3 separate regions of the Homo sapiens genome follow, and all the other regions are linked to region 2. Evidence: fine-mapped expression QTL. A gene starts in region 2. Each other region holds a variant in brackets. All regions are shown on one strand. Distances are from middle to middle.

Evidence for each region. PIP is the estimated chance that this variant, and not a neighbour inherited with it, causes the effect.
Region 1: its variant is the best candidate, but not a certain one, in a credible set for the expression of NGLY1 in whole blood (TOPMed, PIP 0.86).
Region 3: its variant is the best candidate, but not a certain one, in a credible set for the expression of NGLY1 in whole blood (INTERVAL, PIP 0.71).

Annotation. Positions count from the first base shown.
Region 1 is chr3:25,738,074-25,748,318 of GRCh38, forward strand. It overlaps NGLY1 (N-glycanase 1), which reads right to left. Exons shown (of 12, transcript NM_018297.4): 5 at 1,504-1,726. Among named protein-coding and RNA genes, the nearest start is that of NGLY1, 40 kb to the right of the region's middle. The variant G/A (reference allele first, on the strand shown) is at 3,785.
Region 2 is chr3:25,781,456-25,786,455 of GRCh38, forward strand. NGLY1 (N-glycanase 1) reads right to left here and starts at 1,988. Exons shown (of 12, transcript NM_018297.4): 1 at 1,805-1,988. The coding sequence starts at 1,935. RefSeq lists enhancers at 1,338-1,417, 1,578-1,627 and a silencer at 1,938-2,177.
Region 3 is chr3:26,129,634-26,140,537 of GRCh38, forward strand. No RefSeq gene overlaps it. Among named protein-coding and RNA genes, the nearest start is that of LINC00692, 260 kb to the left of the region's middle. The variant AGAG/A (reference allele first, on the strand shown) is at 5,115.

The DNA of each region.
Region 1 (10,245 bases), 41 kb before region 2:
AGCTTTTATTTGATCTGTGTTTTGAATAATGTAAGATTTGGAGAAGCAAATTCTCTAGGCAATTTGCCTAAAGCATTAGCACTAAAGTGGTATAGCTAGCTCACTGTATTTAAAAGGTAAACAACTTTAACAAATTACTCAACAAAAATTTTAGCTTAGTTTAATTCAATTTTATCTAAAATATTATCTTTCTTTCTAATAATCATTTTGATTAAAATTTTACTCTTTTGAAGTATTTAAAGGTGCCTGCTAATTTGGAAGTTGTTTTTTGGGATCTATTTGTAACATTCTTTTCAGAAGTTACTCCAATTATAAAATTACCAGACAATTCAAGAACACTAAATTTTGCATTTTGTGTTGAGATGGGTTTTGAACTGATAGAGCTGAGCAGGAAAAGTGCTGCAGCTGAGCAGAGAGGTCAGCCACGTGCTTTGGAAGGAAAGGAAACAGTGGCATAAATGAATGGGCTCTGCGATGACAAGTCTGTTAAGCAAATGCTTAACCAAGCATTTCTTAAGCTAAATAAATGAATTTATAACTTAGGTAATTAAATTTTTTTTTTTTTTGAGACAAAGTCTCAAGTCTCACTCTGTCGCCCAGGCTGGAGCGCAGTGGCACAATCTTGGATCACTGCAACCTCTGCCTCCCAGGTTCAAGCAATCCTCCTGCCTCAGCCTCCCCATATAGAGAAGAGCTAGAGGTTAAAACAAGCACATGATTAGAAACTATGTCCTAAGCTAAAAAAAATTAGATATTTTTAAAACGTGGTATCTTTCCTTGACTGATAATACAACCAGACTTTATAAACATTGCCAATTCAGAAAATCTGAAAACAGGCTTATAAATTAAAGAATGGAAATTAATTTAAAATTTAAAATGTCCTTAGTTTAAAATTTAGAGATATGAGGAGTAGGTTAGGTTGGGCAGGGGAAGCACCTAACTAAAACAAACTTCTGCTAATAAGACTGATAATAATAATGCTGATTATTGTGAGAGTGAATACAATTATGTGTTTAAAATAATCATCCGATGATAATATGGAAGGTAAAAGTATACCTCAGCATTATTATAAGTATTGTTAGCTATCAGACAGTTAAAAATTAGGAATTAAAAAAGTAATACAAGATTTATAGCATTAAACATGTTATGACTATACTCAAGTTATACTTTAGAACAAGAGTCAACAAATTTCCTATAAAAGACAGATGGTGAATATTTCAGACTTTGTGGGTCATATCATTTCTGTCACCATTATTCAACTCTGCTTGTTGCAGCATAAAAACAGACCATAAGCAAATAAATCAGCATGGTTATGTTCTAATAAAACTTTACTTACAAAAACAGGATGTCGGCTGGATTTAGCCTGCCAGCCACGGTTTGCTCACCGGTATTTTAGAGGAATATATTTCTGATAATTAAATATTAAAAAGTTCATTTAGTAAAAACTCTCTTCTAACTATTTCATTAAGAGATTATTCTGATTTTACCATCCAGGGCACCCACCTTGGGAATCGATTGCTGAACTGGCAGGCATCACAGTAATGATCTTCCACTTCCTTTGCACCCCACTTCAGCTCATCATCACTGGGCAGTAATGATCTATCTCTAGACCTAGTCTGTCCACCACATTTGCTGCACAAAACGTTATTCACCCAGTGAAAAAATTCTTCCTTAAACCAGTGCAAAAGCTCCAGCAAAAGAAAATCCTCATCACTTATATTGATACCTGAGAAATTAAGGGAGGACCAAGTAAGAGCTAAAACTGACAAAATTTAAACTATCCAAACATATTTATTCTCAAATACGAACCTGAAAAATATGAAAACATAAGATGATTTTAAGGTTTTCACTAATAAGAGGCAAGAAGAAACTGTCATTTATTAGGCACTAGGCTGAAATACAATGACAAGTATAACTGCACATTAAAAACAGTAGAACATTTACCATTTTATATCCTCTAACTGACATTATGCATTAACAAGTGAGCTGAACACAATGACCTCTTAGGGAACTATAGTCAGTTAGGAATTGATCCTGAAGTACAAGGGAGGTAGAAAAATAAATTTGATTTTGAAAAACATTTAAAAATGGGAAACATTGAATTTGTTATCAGGTATATACACAAGTAAACATGAAACAATCACAAAAGGCAGAAATCACAGAATTCCAGACATTTAAAAAATCATCCTATTAGCCTTTCTATTAGGGCTTCAACTGTACAATATAATCCATCCATGGATACTCATCCCCAAACACATAAAAACACAACCATATCTCTAGTATATATAACAACCCTAGTAAGTTATAACATGACAGATAATATACCCACTTTTCCATAAACAGATCTCTCTTGTTCATATTCAAGACCATGGTATCTCTGGCAAGAAGGGAAGGAGAGGGAAAATCAATCTTAAAAACATATATAGGGGGTTCTCATCTCTATCTTTAATGTTTTATGATTAAAACAGAGTGATAATAAAACATAAATATGAAGGACATATATAGCATAATGATAAAATCTAATAAAGCTTGATGTTGGTCATAGGTATATGATATATTATACTTTGTTCTTGTATTTATGTTTGATGTATTTCAAAATAAAAAACTACAGAAAAAAAAACTACAGAGAATGTAAAAAGGCCAGAAATATTTATGTTCCTGGAGGGAAAACTCAATATTTCTAAAGCTGATAACCTTCCACAAATTAATCTATAATTTAATATAATCCCAATTAAAATTATAAAATATTTTTTCATAAAATTTGACAAGCTAGCCAGGTGTGGCGGCTCACAGCTCTAATCCCAGCACTTTGGGAGGCCAAGGTAGGCAGATCATCTGAGGTCAGGAGTTCGAGACCAGCCTGGCCAACATGGTGAAACTTCGTCTCTACTAAAAACTACAAAAATTTTCTGGGTTTGGTGGTAGGTGCCTGTGATCCCAGCTACTTGGGAGGCTGAGGCGGGAGAATCACCTGAACCTGGGATGCAGAGGTTGCAGTGAGCCAAGATCATGCCATTGCACTCCAGCCTGAGTGACAGAGCGAAACTCTGTCTCATTAAAAAAAAAAAAAAAAAAAAAATTGACAAGCTAACTACAAAATCCCATGTGAAAGAGAAAATGCACAAAATAGCCAACACAACTTTGAGCAAGAATCATAAGGTAAATTTGCCTACCGTGTATCAAGACATATTATAAAACTCTAATATTTAAAACAATGTGGTATTAGTGAAGAATAAACAGATCAATGAAACAAAAGAATTCTGAAAGACAGATTTCTAAGCAAATGCACAGTATTTAATAAAGTTAGCATTTTAAAGCAGCTCTAACAGGATGGACTGTTTCAATAAATGATATTAGGACAAATAGCTATCTATCAGATCCCTACTATAGTTCATTAAAAAAAAACTTTCTCTGGAATAATATAAAATAATAGAAGTTTATAGGTGAGTATGTTTATGTTTATGACTTTGGGTTAGGAAGGTCTTAGGCAAGCAAGATACAAACTGTAAAATCAATAATAAAAAAATTAAATTTTCTTATGTTAAAAATAAAAACTTTTGAATTTCAAAAGCTACACTAAAGAACTCTGGGAGGAAAAATTTGTAACATGTCTAACAAAGAAAAGATAAATTTCTGGACGGGCACGGTGGCTCACGCCTATAATCCCAGCACTTTAGGAGGCTGAGGTGGGAGGATCACTTGAGGTCAGGAGTTGGAGAACAGCCTGCCCAACATGGTGAAACCCCGTCTCTACTAAAAATACAAAAGAAAAAAAAAATTAGCC[G/A]GGCGTGGTGGCAGGTACCTGTAATCCCAGCTACTCAGGAAGCTGAGGCAGGAGAATCACTTGAACCTGGGAGGCGGAGGTTGCAGTGAGCCGAGATCGCGCCACTGCACTCCAATCTGGGCGACAACAGCAAAACTCTGTCTCAAAAAGATAAATTTCTAAATACATAAAGAACTTCTATAAATCAGTAAGAACATTAAGAAACCCACTAGAAAAATTCACAAAGTCCATAAAAGAAATTCAATACTTTCATTAAGTGGAAACAAATATTCTTAGACACTTCTAGTATAAATTGGAAGGCAATTTGGCAGGATCCATTATAATATAAAAGTATTACACACACTTGACATTTCAGTATCTATCCAAGAGAAATACTTGTGCATGTGTGCCAGGAGACATGGTTTACAAGAATCTCCACTGTGGTGGCATTTAGAACAGAGAAAATGGAAACAACCTCTATGTCCATCAATAGGGAATTGTATAAATAATAGTGTATGTACAATCAAACACTATGGAGTTAAAAAGCTGTCCAATACATATTTGTAAATGAAAAACACCAAGGAGCTGAATATATATGAGATGATAAATTTTAAATAAACCCCACACAACTTAAACTATTTTTATAGATAATTATTTAAGGTATAAATATCCAGGACAAGACATGAAAAAGAACAGAACTGAATGGCAGGGAGAGTTTGGCGTTTCCCATATAATATGAAAGCTTTCCAACAGGAAGATATTCATGAATTAGTTACATTAAAAACAAAGTTTTAGAAACAGAGGACTGTCATTCTCCTTCTCAGTCTAGTGCCTACCATGCAGCAGCTAGAGTAATCTTCTTAAAAGTACAGGCCAGATTATGTGACTTAAAAAACCCTCCAATGGGTTTCCATCTCATTCAAAATAAAATTCAAAGTCCCAACTCTTGTTCTTTCAGCTGGCTCCCCGTCGTAGGCTAAAAAATGGCCCTCAGAGGATATCCATGTCCTAATCACTGTAGCCTATGAATGTAGTTACCTTATGTGGCAAAAAAAAAAAAAAAAAAAAAAAAAAGGTCTTTGCAGATATTATAAAGTTAAGGATCTCTAGATGGGGAGATTATCCTGGAATATGTGGATAAATTCAATCACAATTAACCTCATAAAAAGCAAGTAAATGGAGATTTTACACACAGAGAAGGCAATGTGAAGATGGGACAGAGAGAGATTTGAAGATGCTGGCCTTAAGACCAGACTGTTGCAGCCACAAACCAAGGACTGCCAGCAGCAACCAAAAGCTGGAAGAGGCAAAGAACAGATTCTCCCCTCCAAAAGAAGCATGGCTCTGGGGATACTTCGATTTCCCGCTGTGATAATGATTTTGGATTTCTGCCTTCTGGAACTGTAAGAATAAATTTCTTTTTATTTCACCAAGTTTGTGGTAATTTGTTATAGTAGCCCCAGGAAACTTAAATACCCTCTTCCCTCTCTGACCTCAAACCCTATCTCCTCCTGTCTTGTTCACTGGCTACAGCCACCATGCTCTCCCTGCCATCTCTTAAACTTGCCAACCTCACTCCCACCTCAGGAGGCCTTTGCAGTTGCTCATGCCTTCTACCTAAAAGGGAAATCATTGCTTTTTAGAGAAGCCATCCCTGAAAATCTTGTATCAAACAGCATCTTACTAGTCGTCACTCACTCTGTTCTCCCATTGGTCTTCCTAGCACTTTTCACTAGTGTGTGTGTGTGTCTCTTTCCATAATGGTAGGTACTTAGTTTTGTTCACTGCTATATCCCCAACACTTAGTGTTCTGCTTGCTATACACTAGATGCTTAATAAATATTTGAATGATGAAAGGACTGAACAAACATGCCTCAAAATATTACTTAGAATTGTAATTGTTCACCAAATAGTCATTATCAAGACCAAGAAGAAAGGAAAGGAAAACAGAGTATTTGTACTTCTGTTACATACTCCAGGTATAATCCAGCTGAAAGTAGGACTACTAAACAGTAACACCCAATTAAGGGTCAATGTTCCTCATTTAAACAATATCCTTAACTAGGGGCTCAGAGAAATAAAAGTAGATTCCTGTATGATGAAAGCTCAGAAATCTCAGAGATAAGGGAAGCCTGATTTAGATGCTAAATTCTGTGAATACTGGGTTTATTTCAAAAATATAATTAAGACTTCAAATTTCTAAAGTTACCATCTTCAAAAATACCATATAAACGTAGATTTCTAGTAACTTATCAGTGACAAAATAAAATCAACAAGTTTAGACCTAACTCCATTCTCTGAAAACCACTTCAATATACAAGAGAATGAGAAAATGGGTAAAAACATCAGTAGAGGTAGCCTCATCCATGTTCTCCATCTCATATCTTCACATACAATTTAGTAGGCCAAGATATATTTTGTTACCACTTTTCAAAAATGGGTTCTTCCTCCTCCAAAAAGATGTTTTACCTGTATCTGGAACATGCAATCATGACAAACCTTCAGTCTACCAGGCCAAAGCTATCAAATCATGCTTCTCTATCTCATTTGGCAGTGCCACAAGGTCCCCATTTCTGCATCAAACCAAAACACTTTCCCCAGTCCATAGACCCAGAATATGATTTTTGTCTGGAAAGGAAAAAACAGTGCACTGCACTAATGAAAGAAAATCACCAACTTGGCCAGCGGGGGCTTCGTCATCATCTCAGTGCCATTCACTCACTGGGGCAGAGACTGATGGTGGCCATATAATATCCACTTGCTACTTCTTCCTCATTTATAGAATTTCAATTTTGGAGGGATGACAATGCACCAGTTAAAAAACTACAGATCCCAACTTCCCTTGCGGCTAAGTGTGGCTAAATGACTAAGCTTCATGTTACTCCAAGGAAGACTACTTCAAGAGAAGAAGCTCAAATTAGAGATAAAACCTTTATGCCTTTTCTCTGTTTCTTCTTCCTGATGTTTGGTCTGGAAATGTAATGGCTGGAGCTGCAGCAGCCATTTTGGACTACAAGGTGATGTGAAGGATGGAAAACATATACATCCGAGCCGAAAAGACAGAAGGCACCTAGGTCTTTGATGATAGCTCACCATTAGCTCCAGACTGACTACTTCCATAATTTCTTACATGAGAAAATAATCTCTAAGCCACCAGTCATTTTACTCATAGCACAACCTAATCCTAATTGATATACTCATTATGCCTACCATACCACTTATTTCACTATATAAGTTTCCTTCACTTGTTACTCTTCCTCTTCCCATATCCTGCTGTTTCTAAAATATCGCCATCCAATAGAATTTTCAGCAATAATGGAAATAATTCCTATTCCTACTGTCCAGTAGGGTTGTCACTAACTTGTGGTTATTGAGTAGCTGAAATGTGCTGAGTGTGACTGAAGAACTTGATTTTTCATCTCATTTAATTTAAATGTAAATATCCATATGTGGCTAGTGCTACACTGTTTTCTAGAACCTCTGTAATCCTACCTCTCCACCCTGTCCTCTCAATTTTAGCAATCTCATTTACCTGCATGGCTTTACCTATCATCCTGAAGTGTATTTCAAGGCTTGACTTCTTATCGAATTTCCAGGCCTATGTTTTCACTTGGCAGTCCAGATAGTAGGCACCTCAACTCACTCTTCCTTTCCCTTTAAAACCTGTTTCTACTGACTCCTTTAATTTCCTAGTTGCCTAGATTCAAAGTTACCCAGTCATCTTTGACATCTTCCTTATATATACATGATGCCTTATCCTATTGACTGCAAATTCCACATATTCTATAACCCCAACAACTTTCACATCCATCTTCTCCCTTGTAATCTCAACCCTCTGTTCACCCTCTTATCCCTCTTATGTAAATTAGATTACTATTGTGTTTTAATTTTTCTCTCCTTGTACTCTTTTGATTTTAATTCATTTCACAAGTTATTACTAGATTAATCTTCCTTAAATACAGTCTGATGTCACTCAGAGTTTCAATAGTCAATCCTGCTGAATTACCTATTCGAGAACACCTGAGAAATTATTTTCTGCTTTCTGATGAATAAGGTTATGTAACATTTCTGCTGTATGTTCAATTATAGTCACAATATAACATTAGTCTTTCGGCCAAGACGTGTTTCCTTTGAATTTCTTTGGTCTTTACTATTTCAAACCTTATTAGAAATATGCTTTGTTTCATTTTACTAATTTTTTTGAAAACATTAAAAATGAACTTGGTATACACTGCTCTGTCTGAAATTCAATGTCAACCAAAATATGGTTTCAGCCTACTTGATCTTCCACTGCTTTATATACACCCTACCCTACACACAGTCTAACTGTATTATTCATTGTTCCCAAATAGAGCCTGTCCTTCTCTGCCTCTATGCATGTTGATCACTACACTTGGAAGAAAATCCCCAATCCCTTAGTATGTATTTTGACATATTTTATAAATCCCACTCATCCTTCATGCCCTTAAAAAAAAATCTTTTACTGATTTTCATAATTTTCACTACTAATCTGCTGTGTCATTTCTTTCCTATTTTAATTAAAACTTTTTAAGCGTGAAAGAATATATACACAGATCTTAAATACACATACTCCAATGTGATGAAGTTATTGATAGTTTGTCTTCTCCCTATTTTCCAAATTTTCTACAACCCCTGTATTACCTTTATAATTAGAAAGAAAAAATGCTGGAGCAAATGTTAGCAGGGAACATCAGCAGATTTTTATGGGAAATGGACTTTAAGTCTTAGCTAATAGACTTGAAGGATTCTTGGTCCACTGATAAGACCATTCCCACTGTGAGGACAGATGGACAAATGCATCAGGATAAACATAATGTTCACCTAACTAATGCTCTTTATTGTAGATTTTTGCTCCTTGAGCAATTTCCTGGTTGTTATTTGCCTAGAGAGAGGAAATATGATGGACACAAACAGGAACATTCTGTCTCTATGCTATTTCTCACTGAAGTTTATTCATTTAGCAACATAATGGTTTTATTTTTTATTTTTTGAGACGGAGTTTCGCTCTTTTGCCCAGGCTGCAGTGCAGTGGTGCAATCTCTACTCACTGCAACCTCCGCCTTCCGGTTTCAAGCGATTCTCCTGCTTCAGACTCCCGAGTAGCTGGGATTATGGGCATCTGCAACTGCAAATTAGCCCGGCTAATTTTTGCATTTTTAGTACAGACGGGGTTTCACCATGTTGGCCAAGCTGGTCTACAACATAATGTTTTAAAAATTATACTTCATACATTACATTTGTTGGACTCTGCTTTACACTCAGTTGATCTGTATATTTGAATTCTCATCTTCTATTTAGCTGCTTCTTAAGGCAAGGCTATATTATTATCCTGTCTCTCCCCTGCAGGGCCCAGCCCAATGACTCAAACACAAAACATGTTCAGTAAGTACCTGATAAACAGGCATTTCTATAAGTCATCATATAAAGGACCACAGTACTTTGAAGCTGGACAGGGCCTGTATAATCACATATTAATAAACATTCTTATTGTACACACAGGAAAAAAACTGTTAATACAAGAAGAGAACAACTGTCTTAAGGTTAGCAGGCCTGTAGCAGAAGTAAATCTAAGGCCCAAGCCAGTCATCAAAAATTGAAAAATGGCATAGTGTAATATTTTTAAAAAGACAAAAATTACCAAAATACAAAGGGTAGCAAAATATATAAATGACATTTGTGAAAATTGGTCAAATGGTTAAAAAAGGAAGAGACACATATAGTTAAGCCTTCAGATGGATTTCTGGTTTCATCTTCCAGTTTCTAGCAAGCAGAGGTCAATACTCTCACCTTTAAAACAATAAAAAGCTCAACTGAAATCAGTGACTTTTCTTGGACCCATTAGAGAACTGAGGTCACAGAGTGAATTATCACCCCAAAGTCCAAAAAGATACACAAATATAGAGAATCACAGTCAAAATCTGCTTACATGGAAAAGAAGTCACTAGAGCCATAAACTGGTAAGGACATTTAAATAGCAATTTTGACAAACTGCTGGAAGCTGAGTATGGACTAGCTTGGGAGTAAGAAATTCAGTCTTGGGAGAGGTCCCCACACTTCTGTGCATTTTGTCTGCAGGAAGCCCACCAGGTTTTCACAATGAAGAACCAAGAAAAATCCTTTGTGGCTCTAGAAAAGATGGGAAGAGTAAGAATTGTGAGGTATACCCAGAGTGTTCTTCACAATTAAGGCCTCTCCAGGGAAAAAGATTTTACCAGAGTCTTCTCTGAACTGGGGGAAGGACATATATTTCCCTGACTCCAGCCCCTTGTAGCCTTCCTGTCTCACCTATGGGGGTAAAAAGGCTAACAAACACTTGTGAAAGGCACAGGCCCAGAGATATAGGCCCACTAAAATACTGAGATTTAATCAAAAGATTATAGAACCTTCTCCTTGATACCTTACCATCACACCAATAGGGCTCCAGTATAATAACAATGGATTACAACTAAACGAACACCAAG
Region 2 (5,000 bases):
GGCTGTAGGGACATTAGACTTCAAACCCATCATATCCTCTTTCCTATCCTTGGAAAAGCAACGCACAAAGACTTTCTTAAACTCTTAATTTCTCAGCATTATTCCAGTGTGTCCACTATCCTTTGCGCTCATTGTCACACCCCTCATCTTTCAGAATCTTGAAGCTGTGAGGCGGAGGTTGCAGTGAGTCAAGATCGCGCCACTGCACTCCAGCCTCATCAACAAGAGCAAACTCCGTCTCAAAAACGAAAATCAGCAACGAGCCATTAGTAAACATTCATAATGAAGATTATGATGCTAAATGTCATTATTTGCATGCAAAGGTTTCCCCCTCATACTAAACCTCAGCATTTTGGGTTTCACTAGATTTAAAGCAGAAGTGAGGCTTCATTACAAGGCCACCTCTCTTTTCTGACTAGTGGGGTTTTAAATAGCCTGGTGGCTTTCCAGGTGGTAAGTCTCAGCTAATGGGCTCTGGAGAACCCAGCCTATCAGTTCATTTATGGAGTCCCTTGGCATCCTTGTACTGTGAAGAGCTGTAAGGCCTCAAAGAGTAAAAAAGGTGAGTTGAGAAGGTGTCACAGAGCACGAAGGTGGTCCCCACACAGGTCACAATTATGTAGCTGTGAACAGGCCACATGTTGCATCTTTCATAGCATCTGCCACAAAATAAGGGCTCAATATATTTTCCCTTCAATTTACTTTAAAAATCATTACCATTGCCTAAATGAAATATTACTGACATGGATTTTAAAAACTGCACATGTAACTAATGTCTAAAATTGGGTCACGTGAAACCTATAACCTTGAAACTGAGAATTTCCTTTTAGACTTCATGACAATATACCAAACACTTAATGCACCAGGGGCTGAGGGGAACAGAGAACCTAATTAATCACGGTGACCTGATAAATGAGGTAACACCCCTAAAGCAAGTGGCTCTCCTTTAACCTCAGTTCCATTTCCCTACCCCCCCACACCATGTCCCTTCAGATCATTTGATCTGAAGAGTTGAGGTGGGTACTTATTCAAAATGAATAATCAAACTTGCCTCCCAATTCCCAAAATCTGCAAGGTCCCTTAGACCTCTAGAAGTGCAATTTTGCTGACAGGAGAATGAAGGAAATTACTCTCATCCAAGGCGATTACCTCCACGAATTCTTAAAGGGTTATGTTACATAGTAGAATCCAGGTATTAATATAAAAACTGTAACTTCAAAATACTATAATGTTTCAATCAACAAAAGTGGGCAGAAAAAAAATTAAAAATTTTAAAACCCACCACTTCAGAAGCATTATGCTTTAGTACTCGGATAGTCTCAACATGGGAAGAAAACATCACTTTGTCAGTGAGTAACTTCTGATAAGTATGTGGAAATGTAAGCCACTCCGCTCGAAAAATGCACGCAGGGGGAATGACACGCGCGGTGCGGTTACCGTTGTGTCCCGATATCTGAGGCCGTTAAACGACGAGAAGAGCGGCAGTGTCTGAAGCACGCCTTCCTACCTCTCCTCCGCCCGGCCCCGCTTCCGGGACTCCAGTTCACCCGCAGCACCCTGACTGCAGGTGCCAAGTCACAACTGCAAAGAAACTTCCTTTTCTCGAGCGGGGGTGGGACTTGGCCGGGTCCCGAGGCCCCTGGCCGGCGGGCTCGGACGTTAGGAGCAGAACCAGCTCCAGGTCCCGGTCTGTCCGGGCGTCGCTGCCCTCTGAAGCTCAGGCCGGACGCCCCAGTCCCTGGCCGAACAAGGTGCCGCGGCCCACCCACCCCGGTACCCGCCGTCCGACCCCGTTGCCCTGCACCTGAGGATGTTGTCAGCATAGGTGAGCAGCAGCTTGGAGGCCTCCAAAAAGGTCTCCGGGGTGTTCTGGCAGAGCTCAGCCACGGCCGGGGACGCCGAGCCTGAGGAGCTGCCCAATGCCGCCGCCGCCATGCTTGAGCGCCAGCGGGCGCCGCCGCCGCCCCTCGCTCTCCGCGTCCCACACTGAGCAGGCGCCTCAGCGCGCAGCAGCTACCGCAGCCACCGGCAGGGGCGGGGTCCTCGGCCGGCAGGGGCGGGGTCCTCGGCCGGCAGGGGCGGGGTCCTCGGCCGGCAGGGGCGGGGTCCTCGGCCGGCAGGGGCGGGGTCTTCGGCCGGCAGGGGCGGGGTCGGGGGCCTGGGGCGGGGTCGGGGACCGGGGCCAGGAGCGGGGGAGCTCGGCTGGGAGCTACGGCTGCCCCTTCGCGGGGGGCAAGGGGCTGTTCGGAAGAAGGTGGGGGGCCTCGGCCGGCAGGGGCGAGGTGCTTCGACCCAGAGTTGGGGCCTGGTCGTACAGGTTGGGAAGGGGTTCCGCAGGGAGAGGCGGGGCCTGGGCTCCGGGGCTGAGGGGTGTGGGCCTGGAGGAGGGGGATGTCGAGTCCTTTAGGACGGAGGAGCTCGGCTGGAGGGGAGGCCGGCTTTGGTCTAGAGGTATCGGGCGAATGGTGCTGGCACGTGCCTCTCAGAAACCCGGATCCCTTTGCGCTCCGGGGCCAGCCTAATTGATCCAGCTATTAAGGTGGAGAAACCGCATGTACCTCCCTCCTTTCCCCACAAATAAAACCACCTTAGAGCCTTCTCTTCGCAGATTGTCAGGACGTTCTACATAGATGTGGATGAAAGACTACAGAAGGAAGGAGCAACAAACGTCAAAAACAAAACCATGGCTATAAACTCTGCTGGGTTTGTTATATGGATTCTTTTCAGAATTTGGCTAATGACTGAAAATCTAAGTTCCAGCTCAACTAGTATATGATTCCTCTGTAAGGAAGTGTATTTTTAAACCATAGGTTGCGACATAATAATGGGTTGTGGATTCGGTTTACCGCGTGGTGACCAGCGTAAAACACATGCATAATAATTACGCAATATTATAGAATGTCGGGGGCGGGAAGGGAATAAAAATTTGCATCCCACACAGTAAGGGTAAGTAATATTTTGTGACTTGTTTTTTAGGTAGATCATGTGATCAAGGTCTTTTATTCCTCTTAGAAGATGCATCCCTTACTACTTTAATCCAGTCTCTTCCCCACCATGTTCTTGAAAGTGTACTTTACCAGTGGCTTCCTTCTTTGCAGAAATTCCTTTTCAACCTCACGAAGTATTTTTCTTGACTTTATTTCTTAAGATAAGTGATTTGCCTGAATAACCTCTTTTAAATTTCTTGATGTTTCATCTGTTTACTTTTAAGAATTGAAATTTTCTTCCAGAATCTCCGAACAAGACCCTAAGCTATGACATCCAGTTCAATGACTATTCGTCTCCCAAATATACGTACGCTTTTAATAAATATGTAAATCTTTGGACCACCTTCCAAGTATGGTGTGTTCAACAGATAGTAGTATGTTACTACCGTCTGTAACTAAAATTTTCAGGGGCTTAACACAAGAGTAATTTCTTTCTGGCTCATATAACACTTTAATAATGCAGGTGTCATAATGTCAGTGGACCCAGTCTCCTTCCATACCTTAGAACAGGGGTCAAGAAACATTTTCTGTAAAGGGCCACATAGTGTTTTAGGCTTTGTGAGCCATAAGGTCTGTCTCAACTATTTAACTCTGCCTCTGCAGCTGTTGCTCCACAGACAATACTTGAAAATAAATGGGCATGGTTATGTTCTAGTGAAATTTTATTTACAAATCCAGGCAGCCTGCTTGGACAAAAAAAAAAAAAAAAAAAAAAAAGTCACACCTACTTTTAACCACATGAGCCCAGAAATGACACACAGCATTTTCTCTACCATATCATTACTAAGAATGAGGCCTCATCAAGATAAAAGGGGGTATTTCAGTAAGGCCAGATTTACAAAAAATAAAAAAAAAATTTAAAAACACATAAAAAGATAAAAGGGGAGAGTCTGGGAAATGTAGTCTCGTCCAACTACACAATGGATTGGGGGCTTGGGTCTGGAGATATAGCTATCACAAACTTTATTCCTCTTAATTTGGGTTTCTTTTTCCATTGATACATTTATTTATCCTTTACTAATTATATGAGAATAGTATATATTATACAGTACTTGTAACTTTTAAAAATGCAACAGAACTTTTTTTTTTTTTTCAAATAAAATTTTAGGGGCTGGACATGGTGGCTCACGCCTGTAATCCCAATACTTTGGGAGGCCGAGGTAGGTGGATCGCTTGAGCCCAGGAGTTCAAGACCAGCCTGGGCAACATGGCAAGACCCCATCTCTACAAAAAAAAAACAAAAACAAAAACATAGGAAGATTGTCTATATACAAAACACCAAAGTGGAAATGCTCTGGTATTGAAGCAGAGGTGTCAAGTGAAGGGCAGAAAGCTGTCAGCTAAGGCTTTCCCCTGACAGATAGAATGGTCATAGGGTACTTTTGTGGGGGAACAAAATGACTTTTGTTTTTCTCTTCATAATAGTTTGTTTCCTCAACTAAAACGCTATCTCACTGTAAGTTATCATTAGTTTTGTCTTCCCTATTTGATTAAAAGTCTCTTGTGCCATCTGTCTCAGACTGCTTTGCACACAGCAGGTACTGAATAGAGTTGTTGGTTAATCACTCAATGTAGTCACACAATAGTGAATCACTATACAAATTCCTGAAAGACTTCAACTCCTCCCCTTGCTAATGGTTTTTATGGAGGTTAACTTTTTAATATCACCAAACCAATCGTGGGGAAAATTTACAGAGTTCTTTCTTTTTTGTTTTATTAAAGAATAGTGTTAGCCAGGCGTGTTAGTGCACACCTGGAGTCCCAGCTACTTGGGAGGCTGAGAGGCAGGAGAATCGCTTGAACCCAGGAGGCAGAGGTTGCAGTGAGCTGAGGTTGCCCTACTGCACTCCAGCCTGGGTGACAGAGCGGGACTCTACCTCAAAAAAAAAAAAGAATAGCGCCATGATATGTCAACTCTAAAAATGATGTTTTTAATAAAGGTGAAATCCTGGGGAAAAAAAAAATCTTTATTTTGGAACAAAAATAAATAAATAAAAGAACAAGAATTTCAAT
Region 3 (10,904 bases), 350 kb after region 2:
TACCTTTGGTCTTTGATGTTGGTGACCTACAGATGGAGCTTTGGTATAGATATCCTTTTTGTTGATGTTGATGCTATTCCTTTCTGTTTGATAGTTTTCCTTCTAACAGTCAGGTCCCTCAGCTGCAGTTCTGTTGGGTTTTGCTGGAGGTCCACTCCAGACCCGGTTTGCCTGGGTATCACCAGTGGAGGCTGCAGAACAGCAAATATTGCTGCCTGAACCTTCCTCTGGAAACTTCATCCCAGAGGGGCACCTGCCTATGTGAGGTGTCTGTCAGCCCCTACTGGGAGGTGTCTGCCAGTTAGGCTACACGGGGGTCAGGAAGCCACTTGGAGAGGCAGTCTGTCCATTCCCCGAGCTCAGACACTGTGGTGGGAGAACCAGTGCTCTCTTCAGAGCTGTCAGACAGGGACATTTAGGTGTGCAGAAGTTGTCTACTGCCTTTTGTTTAGCTATGCCCTGCTCACAGAAGTGGAGTCTATAGAGGCAGTAGGCCTCGCTGAGCTGTGGTGGGTTCTGCCCAGTTCGAGCTTCCCGGCTGCTTTGTTTACTGACTCAAGCCTCAGCAATGGCAGACGCCCTCCCCTAGCCAGGCTGCTGCCTCACAGTTCGATCTCAGACTGCTGCGCTAGCAGTGAGCAAGGCTCCCTGGGCATGGGACCCACTGAGCCAGGCACAGGAGAGAATCTTCTTGTCTGCCGGTTGCTAAGACCTTGGGAACAGCTCAGTATTTGGGCGACAGTGTCCCATTTTTCCAGGTACAGTCTGTCATGGTTTCCCTTGGCTAGGAAAGGCACTTCCTGGGTGAGGTGACACCCCGCTCTGCTTCGTCTCACCCTCTATGGGCTGCACCCACTGTCCAACCAGTCCCAATGAGATGAACTAGGTTCCTCAGTTGGAAATGCAGAAATCACCCATCTTCTGCATCAGTCACGCTGGGAGCTGCAAACTGGAGCTATTCCTATTTGGATATCTTGGAATGGACCTTACTTTGTAATAGATTTATAGTAAATTCTGAAATCAAGAAATGTGAGTACTTCAGCATAGTAGTTTGTTATTTTTTAAAATTAACTTTACTTTTTAGATCAGTTTTAGTTACACAACAAAATTGAGGGGAAGATACAAGACATTTCCCATGTACCCCTTGCCCCACACATGTGTAGTCTCCCTCATTATTAACATCCCTCTTCTTTTACAAGATCATTTTTGATATTTGGGGTTGCTTGAGATGCCATGTGAATTTTAGGATGAGTTTTTCTATCTTTGCAAAAATGTCACTGGGATTTTGATAGCCATTGCATTGATTCTGTAGATCACTTTGGTTATTATGACATTTTAACAATGTTAATTCTTCCAATTCATGAACATGATATGTATTTCCATTCATCTATGTCTTTTAAAATTTCTTTCAGCAATGTTTTGTTGTTTTCATTGTACAAGTCTTTTACCTTCTTTGTATCGTAGTTTTTATTCCTTAGTATTTTTTGATGCTATTGTAAATAAAAATTTTTGTAATTTTTTTCTGATTGTTTATTGTTAAGAGTACAGAAATGCAACTGATTTTATTTGTATTGGCTTTATATCCTGCTACTTTACGGAAGTCATTTATTAGTTCTAACAGGTTGTGTGTATGCAGGTAATATTTAGGGTTTTCTATGTGTAAGATCATATCCTCTGCAAATAGAGACAGTTTTGGAGCTGTATATTTTTACATCTGCATCAGATTTCATTCATTGGTTATATCATAATCTATCTTAGTCTTTTATTGATGAACTTTTAGATTGTTTGCAATATTTTGCTTATAGCAAAAATGATTTAAATTTATCACTTAGTGTCAGTGGGAGTAGGAAAGTAATTACCGAATCAAGAAACATGCAATCTTAATTTTCAATAGATAAAGCAAAACTGCTTCTCATTGAGAAAATGCCAACATATATTCCTCCCAGACATTAATAAGGATGCCCATATTATTATCAATTAGGTGTGTTACAAACTTTTTAATCTTAGCAAACCTGAGTTGTAAAAACTGTATCTCATTATACTTTTAATTTGAATTTCTATTTTTATTAGATATCAAGCATTTTCATCCAAACAGAGCCATTCGTATTTTCCTTTCATATAATTATTAACCGTTAAAAAATCCCAGCTTTACTGGGGTATAATTTAGATACCATAAAATTCACCCATTATAAGTATACAATTCAGTGATTTTTTTAAAGTAAAATTTACATTTGTGCAGCAATCACCACAATCTAGTTTTAGAACATTTACAGAACGCCAAAATGTTATCTCCTTCCCATTTGAAGATAATCCCCTATCTCACACCCAGCTCTAGGAAACCACTGGCCTGCTTTCTCTGTATATAAATTTACTGTTTCTGGATATTTTGTATATGTAGAATCATACAATATGTAGTGTTTTGAATAAGGTCTCTTTTAATTAGTATGACACTTTTAAGGTTGAAAATGCCATAGTATGTATCAAGACTTCATTTCTTTTTTTTGTTCGATAGTGCTCCATTGTATGCATATATCACATTTTGTTCATTTATTTGCCATTTAATGCAGATTTGGATGCTTTGCAATTTTGGGCTATCATGGATGATACTGCTATAAACATTCACTTACAAATCTTTGTGTGGACATGTATTTTTGTTTCTTTTGGGTGGATTCCAAGAAATAAAATTGCTGGGCCAAATGTTAAGTGTATATTTAATTTCATGAGAAACTATATTTTGCAAAATGGCTGTATTATTTACCTTCCCACCAGCAGTAAATGAAGACCCTGGGTCCTTCACATCTTTTCCTACACTTTGAAACACCTTTCTTTTTGATTATAGTCATTCTAGTGAGTACATAATGGTATCTTATCGTAGTTTTAATTTGTGTTTTCCTAATGGCTAATGATGCTAAACATGTTTTTATATGCATAGTGATCGTTTGTGTGTGTGTGTGTGTGTGTGTGTGTGTGTGTGTGTGAGGTCTATTCAAATCTTGTTTCTAGAAATTGTCCATTTCATCTCATTTGTCTTATTTTTTGGCATAGTTGTTTATAAATTCCCTTATAATGTTTTCATTTCTGTAGCATTGGTTGTAATATTTCCACTTTCATTCCTGAATTTGATAAATTATGTTTTCATGTTTTCCTTTGGTTAGTTCAGTTAAATATTTGCCAATTTTGTTGATATTTTGAAAGAAACAACTTTTAGTTTTATTGCCTTATTTTCCTTTTGTTTTTGTTTTGTAGTTCATTGATTTGTGCTCTAACCTTTATTTCTATCCTCTGTTTGCTTTGGGGTTAGTTTGCTCTTCTTTTACTATGCTCTTAAGGTAGAAGCATAGGTTATTGATTTGAGACCTTTCTTCTTTTCCAATATATGCCTTTAAAGCTGTAAATGTCTTTCTAAACACTGCTTAGCTGTACATCATAAATTTTGATATATTGTGGGGTTTTTCTGTTTGTTTTCATTCATGCAAAGCCTTTCCTAATTTACCCTGTGGTTTCTTCTGTGACTTGAATTTGGCAACTTGTGCCTCCTTTGTCTTTGTCTGTCTCACTCTCTTTTTATTGGTTAGTCTGGTTAAAGATTTGCCAATTTTGTTGATCTTTTCAAAAACTTTTAGTTTCATTTTTAGAATTTAGAAGTGTATTGTTTAATTTCCAAGTACTTAAGGATTTCCCATATTCCTTTTAGTTGTTTATTTCTAAATTCCATTTTGGTTGAAAATACACTGTATGAATTCAATATTTTTAAGTGTGTTGAGATTTGTTTTATGGCTTACCATATGATCTCATCCTGAAAAATATTCCACGTGCACTTAAAAAGAGCATGCATTCTGCATTCAATGAGTGGACCATTCTACCTAAATTAGTTTGAGTTGGTTGATAGTATTGTTCAAGTCTTGTATATCTTTACTGATTTTTTTTAATATAGTGGTTCTATCAATTATTGAATCTTTGGTATTGAGTCCTCCAACTTTCACTGTTGAATTTTCTATTTGTTTATTTCTCTATTCCTTTATTGCTTCTTTTCTGTTAAGACAATACTTTTAGTATGCTACTTTAATTGCTCTTTTGATTTTTAAAACTAGTTTTTGAGTTATTCTCTCAATGGTCAATCTAGGAAATTATAAAATGCATTTTAATTGATGACAATTTCCTCTAGAATAATACTAGCTTAATATTTGTAAAATACAGAAATTTTGCTTCAATATAGCTCTATTCTCTCCCACTCCTTTGTGCTATTATTGTTACATATTTTTATATATGTTATCAACTTAATAATAGATTGTATAATTATTGCTTTATACAGTCTTATGTCTTTTAAATAAATTAAGGGAAGAAATGTAAAAAAATGCTTTTAGAGTTTTATATTAACCTGCATAATTGCCATTTCAGTGTTCTTTATTTTTTCTTATGGATTTGAGTTACCTTCTTGTGGTATTACCTTTCAGGCTGAAGGTCTTCCTTATTCTTTTTCCTCTCTTCCCAAGAACTCTAAGCAGATGGGTTTAGAGTTCAAGAACCTCTCACCAAAGAGAAAAAGACTTGGCCAAGAAGAAAGGCTGGCTCTTAGCCTGGGAATCAAGATCTATCTCTGTGTTTAGGGAGAGCTTGATTATGATCAGGTGGGAGAAAGTTGAATTTAAGTGCAAAGTAGGAAGCTGACCAACAGTCTATATCCTAGGTTTAGGAATGCTGAGTTCAGTGTGAATCTTGTCACATGCAAAACAGGAATATTCTTGCTTGCATAACTTGTTTCAAGAAAATGAAGAATTCTTTGTGATTGATGATGATTCTGCTTCCTTAGGTGAATACAAACCAGTAGCCAATGGTTTACTGGCCTGATTTGTACTGTAGGTCAGCATCTCAAACCAAAGACTAAATTTCCCAAGGATGTTGCCAAAGTATTCAATTCAGACAAAGAGAGAACCAAAACTGTGTATTTGAAAAAGCATACATCCCTACAAATTAAGTTTGTGTGAAGATTTGAACTAAATTATGTATTAGCCAGGAGAAGACAACAAATTCAACAACAAAAAAATGAAAACAACATTTACTAGTGTGCTGCTTCATTTTGGCATTGTTTACAATAAATAAAGCTAAGAATAAAA[AGAG/A]GAGAGGACAATTGTCTTGATGAGACATGAAATTGATATTCCTATAGAACTTTACTCTTAAAAAGAAACATTCTATCCCAGATTAAGTTGTGCCTCCATTAATACGTGACATTACCCCTGAATGCTTTGTTTGGTACTCACATTATTTGAGTACTGGCTCTATAATTAGTCATTTTTGAATATCATCATTACTGTTACCAAGGCATACAAAAGATTTGTTTTTAAGTTTCAGGAGTTCTATTTTAAATCTTTTGCTCTACATTTTTCTTGGCAACACTCTTTTATTTCTTTTAAATTTATGTTCTATTTTATTTTCTGAGAAATGTCATGAAGTATTTTATTTTTTCCTAACTTTTCCTTGATGTTGGAAAGCTGTGAAGATTTGTGAAGCTGAAACAAATTCCTTCTTAATCATTTTAGACATTTCTGTAATAACACATGTACATGGTTTCTCAGCTCTTTTGATTCATTGTACATTAGAAACATTCCTTTAAGGTTAGTAGCTATAATTTCATTTTGTGGTAGAAGAAAAGAACTGCAGAGGAGTTTGACAGCTATTTTAAGACAATGGGAAAAAGTTTGTATGTGTTTTTGGATGATATGAGCTTAATGAAAGCTTTTTATGCTTCCTGCTCTTGCATGAGGAGGCAGGTCTACCAAAAATGGTAGATCACAGATTGACAACTTTTACTACTTGTCAAAGAGACTTCAGGAGCCACAGGGTTGGATGGATAGTTGCTGAGGGCAGACTGTCTTCTGGAGATTCTCTGTTAAATTTTGCACTAAGAGTTCCTCGGAGTCAAAATAGTATTCAGAGTATCAGTGAGTATGTAAACTGATTCTTTTCTTCCCATTTCAACTTCATATTCTGCTTTATTGTAGACATCATTACAGAAGTTAATGGCCTGCAGAATAGCTAATTATATTAGTACACCACTTGAAATAGGATGCATAGAATTCTGACCCCATGGTCCCCCTCCCAAATTTACATCATTACACAAAAGATAAACTTATCAGGGGAGTGAAAGCAGTAAGCATATGATAAATTACTTCATAGACTTAATAAATATCAATTTGTAGCCTGTTCCTTTTTTTTTTTTTTTTTTTTTTTTGCTAAGGCTAATATATCTAGCATAGTGTTGATCAGCTCCCAATCTGGGAAAATGCCAGACTGTCGATCACTTTTATAGAAAATGAAGCCATATATTTATTCAACAAGTATTTATTGATCTTCTGTTATGTGTATCAAGCACCATGTTAGATGCTGGGTCTACAATAATAAGATAAACAGACGAGACTCATTTTCCCATAGAACTGTCAGAGTTATGAGAAAGATAGACAATAAAATAACTATACAAATAGATATTTATACTATGTAGACATATAAAGTTATGTAAGGGCATAAAGCCAGAGCTAATGTTTTGCAGGATAGGGGAAGGATTTGTGGCGGAAGCAAGTGCTTCAGGTAGAGGGAGGAGTGTGTGCACAATCTTCACAATGGAAGGGAACAATTACTTGTCTGAGGAACCTAAAATGGCAATGCAGGAAACACAAGGAGAAGAAATGAAAGATACAAGACTAAAAAGATAGGCAGGATCAAGGTCATAAAGGGTACCAAAGGTTATAAAGAAGATTGATTTTTAGGACTTCTTACCTTAACCTGTGGGAAAATAGTTTCAGTTTAAAATTATCAGTTAGGTAGGCAAATTCTTAGCTTAAAGGTTTTTTTAATAATTGAGACACTCTCTCTTGAAGGAATAATAAAATTAATGATATGCGTGTTGTTGCATGTGACTAAAGAAATACCGCTAATATCCACAGAAGAATATTTTCCTTTTAATGTAGTGCTATATTACCCATTTCTGGATGTAAAGCTAATTATTTGTCAAATTAAAGTCTATTATTATCAGCAATATTATTATCTCTTGGAAATAATTGATAGCCTTGGTTTGCAAGCTCTGGTGTAACACAGGAGAATACAGTTTATCAGATTCAAAAAAGCCTGTAATAAAGGTAATTTGGTGGATTTAAACATTAGCGTGAGAAATATAAATGGAAACAGAGCAAAAAAAAGAACTTGTCTTTTGTTGTTTCCTGCTGTGTCATTAGCTAGTCTTCATATTAAAAACATTCTGTCCTAATAGGAGTGGCTTGATAATGTATTGGTCTCCATTAAAGAACAAAAATTATATAAATGAATCATTTCTTTGTAGATGAGGCAAAAGGTATAGCAACTTCTACTGAAGTCCTTGTGTCTATCAATTGCTTAGACAAGGTAGTTAAGTTAAGGAATATGTGTGTGTGTGTATGTATATATATATATAAATAAATAAAATGATTCAGTTGAAATAGCAAAGAAACTTAAATATGACTCATAATATTGGATTGCTACATAACAATTTACCCTTATAGTCTTTAATGTTTATTTTGTCTTTAATGTTAATGCAAAATTTATCTCTCTTCTCTTTCATTAGGAAAGTTTAGAATAAATCCCCTTCCACCCCTGCCCCTGGTGCCAAACTTGGAAGAATGACTTCATGGATGGAAGTAAGTAAAATGTGGAATCTTGCACTCTTTTAAGGAAGCTGTTACTGGTTGCAAGACTCCTTGATTAATCTGGAAAGGAGAATGAACTGAGTGTTACAGACTTCCCTTGTGGTGGACTGCATTCCACTGAATTTGTTTCTAGCACTGTAAAGACATTTGTGCGTTTTTGGAGTGGTGTTTCCATGTTTCTATTTTGTGGGTAACATATACCCCTCAAGGAACACTTGGGGTACTTGTTGATGATGATGGGTGACAATAAGCCCATACTGCATCTGGCTGAGCTAACTTGAGGTCAGGTTTCACTCTTGCATTCACCCTCTTCCCCACCTTGCCCTTCTAATCCTAACACAATTTTCTTAGTATTTAGTAATGGAGAAAACTCAATTTCTGTTTTCAAATTCTCTGTTCTATGCTCATGTGTTTAAGGCACCTCACAAAATACACAGAACACCCACTTCATAATTTAAAAACAATTATTGAGCACTGATATGGTTTGGCTCTGTATCTCAACCAAAATCTCATTTCGAATTGTAATCCCCACATATTGAGGGAGGTACCTGGTAGGAGGTGATTGGATCATAGGGGCAGTTTCTCCCATGCTGTTCTCATGGTAGTGAGGGAGTTCCTTCGAGAGCTGAGGGTTTTAACAGTATTTGGCAGCTCCTCCTTTGTTTGCTGTCTCTGGTCTGCCGTCATGTAAGACATGCCTTTGCTTCTCCTTCACCTTCTGCCATAATTGTCAGTTCCCCGAGGCCTCCCCAGCCATTTGGAACTGTGAGTCAATTAAACCTCTTTTCTTTATAAATTATCCAGTCTTGGGTATTTTTTTTATAGCAGTATCAAAATGGACTAATACAAGCACGTGTTATGTGCCATCCATTATGATAAGATTTTACAAGCATTTTCTTTTTTTTCTTCTCTTTCTCTTTTTTTTTTTTTTTTTTTGAAACAGAGTCTCACTCTGTCACCCAGGCTGGAGTGCAGTGGTGCAATCTTGGCTCACTTCAACCTCTGCCTCGTGGATTCAAGTGATTCTCCTGCCTCAGGCTCCCGAGCAGCTGGAACTATAGGCACGCACCACCACGCCCAGCTAATTTTTGTATTTTTAGTAGAGATGCGGTTTCACTATATTGGCCAGGCTGGTCTTGAACTCCTAACCTCATGATCCACCTGCCTCAGCCTCCCAAAGTGCTGGGATTACAGGCATGAGCCACCATGCCTGGCCTATAAGCATTTTCATTCGATGCTCTCAATGAGCCCAAAAGACAATAATGTGATCCCTATTTTACAGATAAAAATACGAAGGCAAGAAGGATGAAATAATCTTTCACTGCTAAGAAGTAAGATAATACAGATTTGAACCCATGGAGGCCAAGTGCAGAGCCAAGCTCCTAGCCATTTGACAATACTGCTATATTGAGCAATTTCTCTTCACTATATCAAAAATTAATATTTGCTGAGAATTTTAGCCTCTACTTGTGAAAAAAAAGTCATAGTGCATAAAATCTCAAGATATCATATCCAGACCTCTTCTAGTATAACAAGGGAAAAGGAAAGGCTGATATGATAAAGGCAAGCTCCAGTTTCATAACTCATAGAAAAGAGTAGGAAAAGAGGTTCATTTTACCCATGTCACTCCATCCTCCAGGCTGGCAGAGCTAAGCACCGAGAAAAATCCCCTTGGCTTTGAGTTCCCGTTGTGGGGGAAAAGGCGAGCAGGAGGAATCCCAGTAGCCTTTGCCGTTAATAATCCTGGCAGTCCTTGCTGCTGGCTGTGGACCCATGGCCTTAACCATCCAGGACCCCTGCAGTCTTTGCTGATTAGATCCCAGCTGTTGAAGCCACCTAAACTCCATCTTGCTGCACCTTCCTGGAGCTGGAGCTTTCCCAGTCCAAGGAGATTTAACAGAGTCAAATGTTAATCTCCTTTGGCAACATCCTCACAGACACACCCAGGAACAATACTTCACATCTTTCAATCCAATCAAGTTGACATGCGATATTAACCATCACTTTACCCAAAGTGATCTACAGATTCAGTGTAATCCCTATTAAAATCACAGTGGCTTTCTTTTCAGAAATGGAAAAATAATTCTACAATTTGCATGACACTACAAAAGACCCCAAATAGCCAAAGCAGTTTTGAGCAAGAAGAATGATGGTGGAGGCATATATTTCCTGATTTTGAAATATATTACAAAGCTACAGTAATCAAAACAGTACGGTAGTGGCAAAAACAAACCAAAAACAGATGTATAGACTAATGAAATAGAACATGGTATATATACATACACACACACACACACGTATACATACAATGGAAGATTATTCAGCCTTAAAAATAAGGAAATCTTGCAACTTTTGACAAAATGGATGAATCTGGAGGACAATATACTAAGTAAAATAAGCCAAACACAGAAAGACAAATATTGCATGATCTTACATATATTCAGAATAGGAAATAGTCAAACTCATAGAAGCAGAGGGTAGAGTGGTAGTTATTAAGGCCTGGAAGGAAGGGAAAATGAGATGATGTTGGTCAAAGGGTATGAAGTTCCAGTTTCACAAGGTGAACAGTTTGACACTTGAAATTTGCAAAGAAGGTAGATATTAAGTGTTTTACACACACACACAGACACACACACAGAAAATGTTAATTTTGTGAGATATTGGATATGTTAATTAGCTTGGATGTAGTAATCATTTCACAATATATACATATATCAAAGCATCAAGTTGTACACTTAAATATATGCAATTTTTATTTGTCAAATGTACCTTAATAAAGATGTTAAAAAAGAAAACAACATCAATCATTTTGGAAGAAATTTGGGCACTGATACGGTTTGGCTGTGTCCCCATCCAAATCTCATCTTGAATTCCTGCATGTTGTGGGAGGGACCCAGTGGGAGGTAACTGAATCATGGGGGCAAGTCTTTCTTGTGCTATTCTCATGATAGTGAATAAATCTCACCAGATGTGATGGTTTTATAAAGAGGAGTTCTCCTACACAAGTTCTCTCTCTTTGTCTGCTACCATCCATGTAAGATGTGACTGCTCCTCCTTGCCTTCCACCCTGATTGTGAGGCCTCCCCACCCATGTGGAACTGTAAGTCCATTAAACCTCTTTCTTTTGTAAATTGCCCAGGCTTGGGTATGTCTTTATCAGTGGTGTGAAAACGGACTAATACAGGCACAGAAACTTTTCCTGATAGGATGAGGCTATGGTCTGAATTTTTA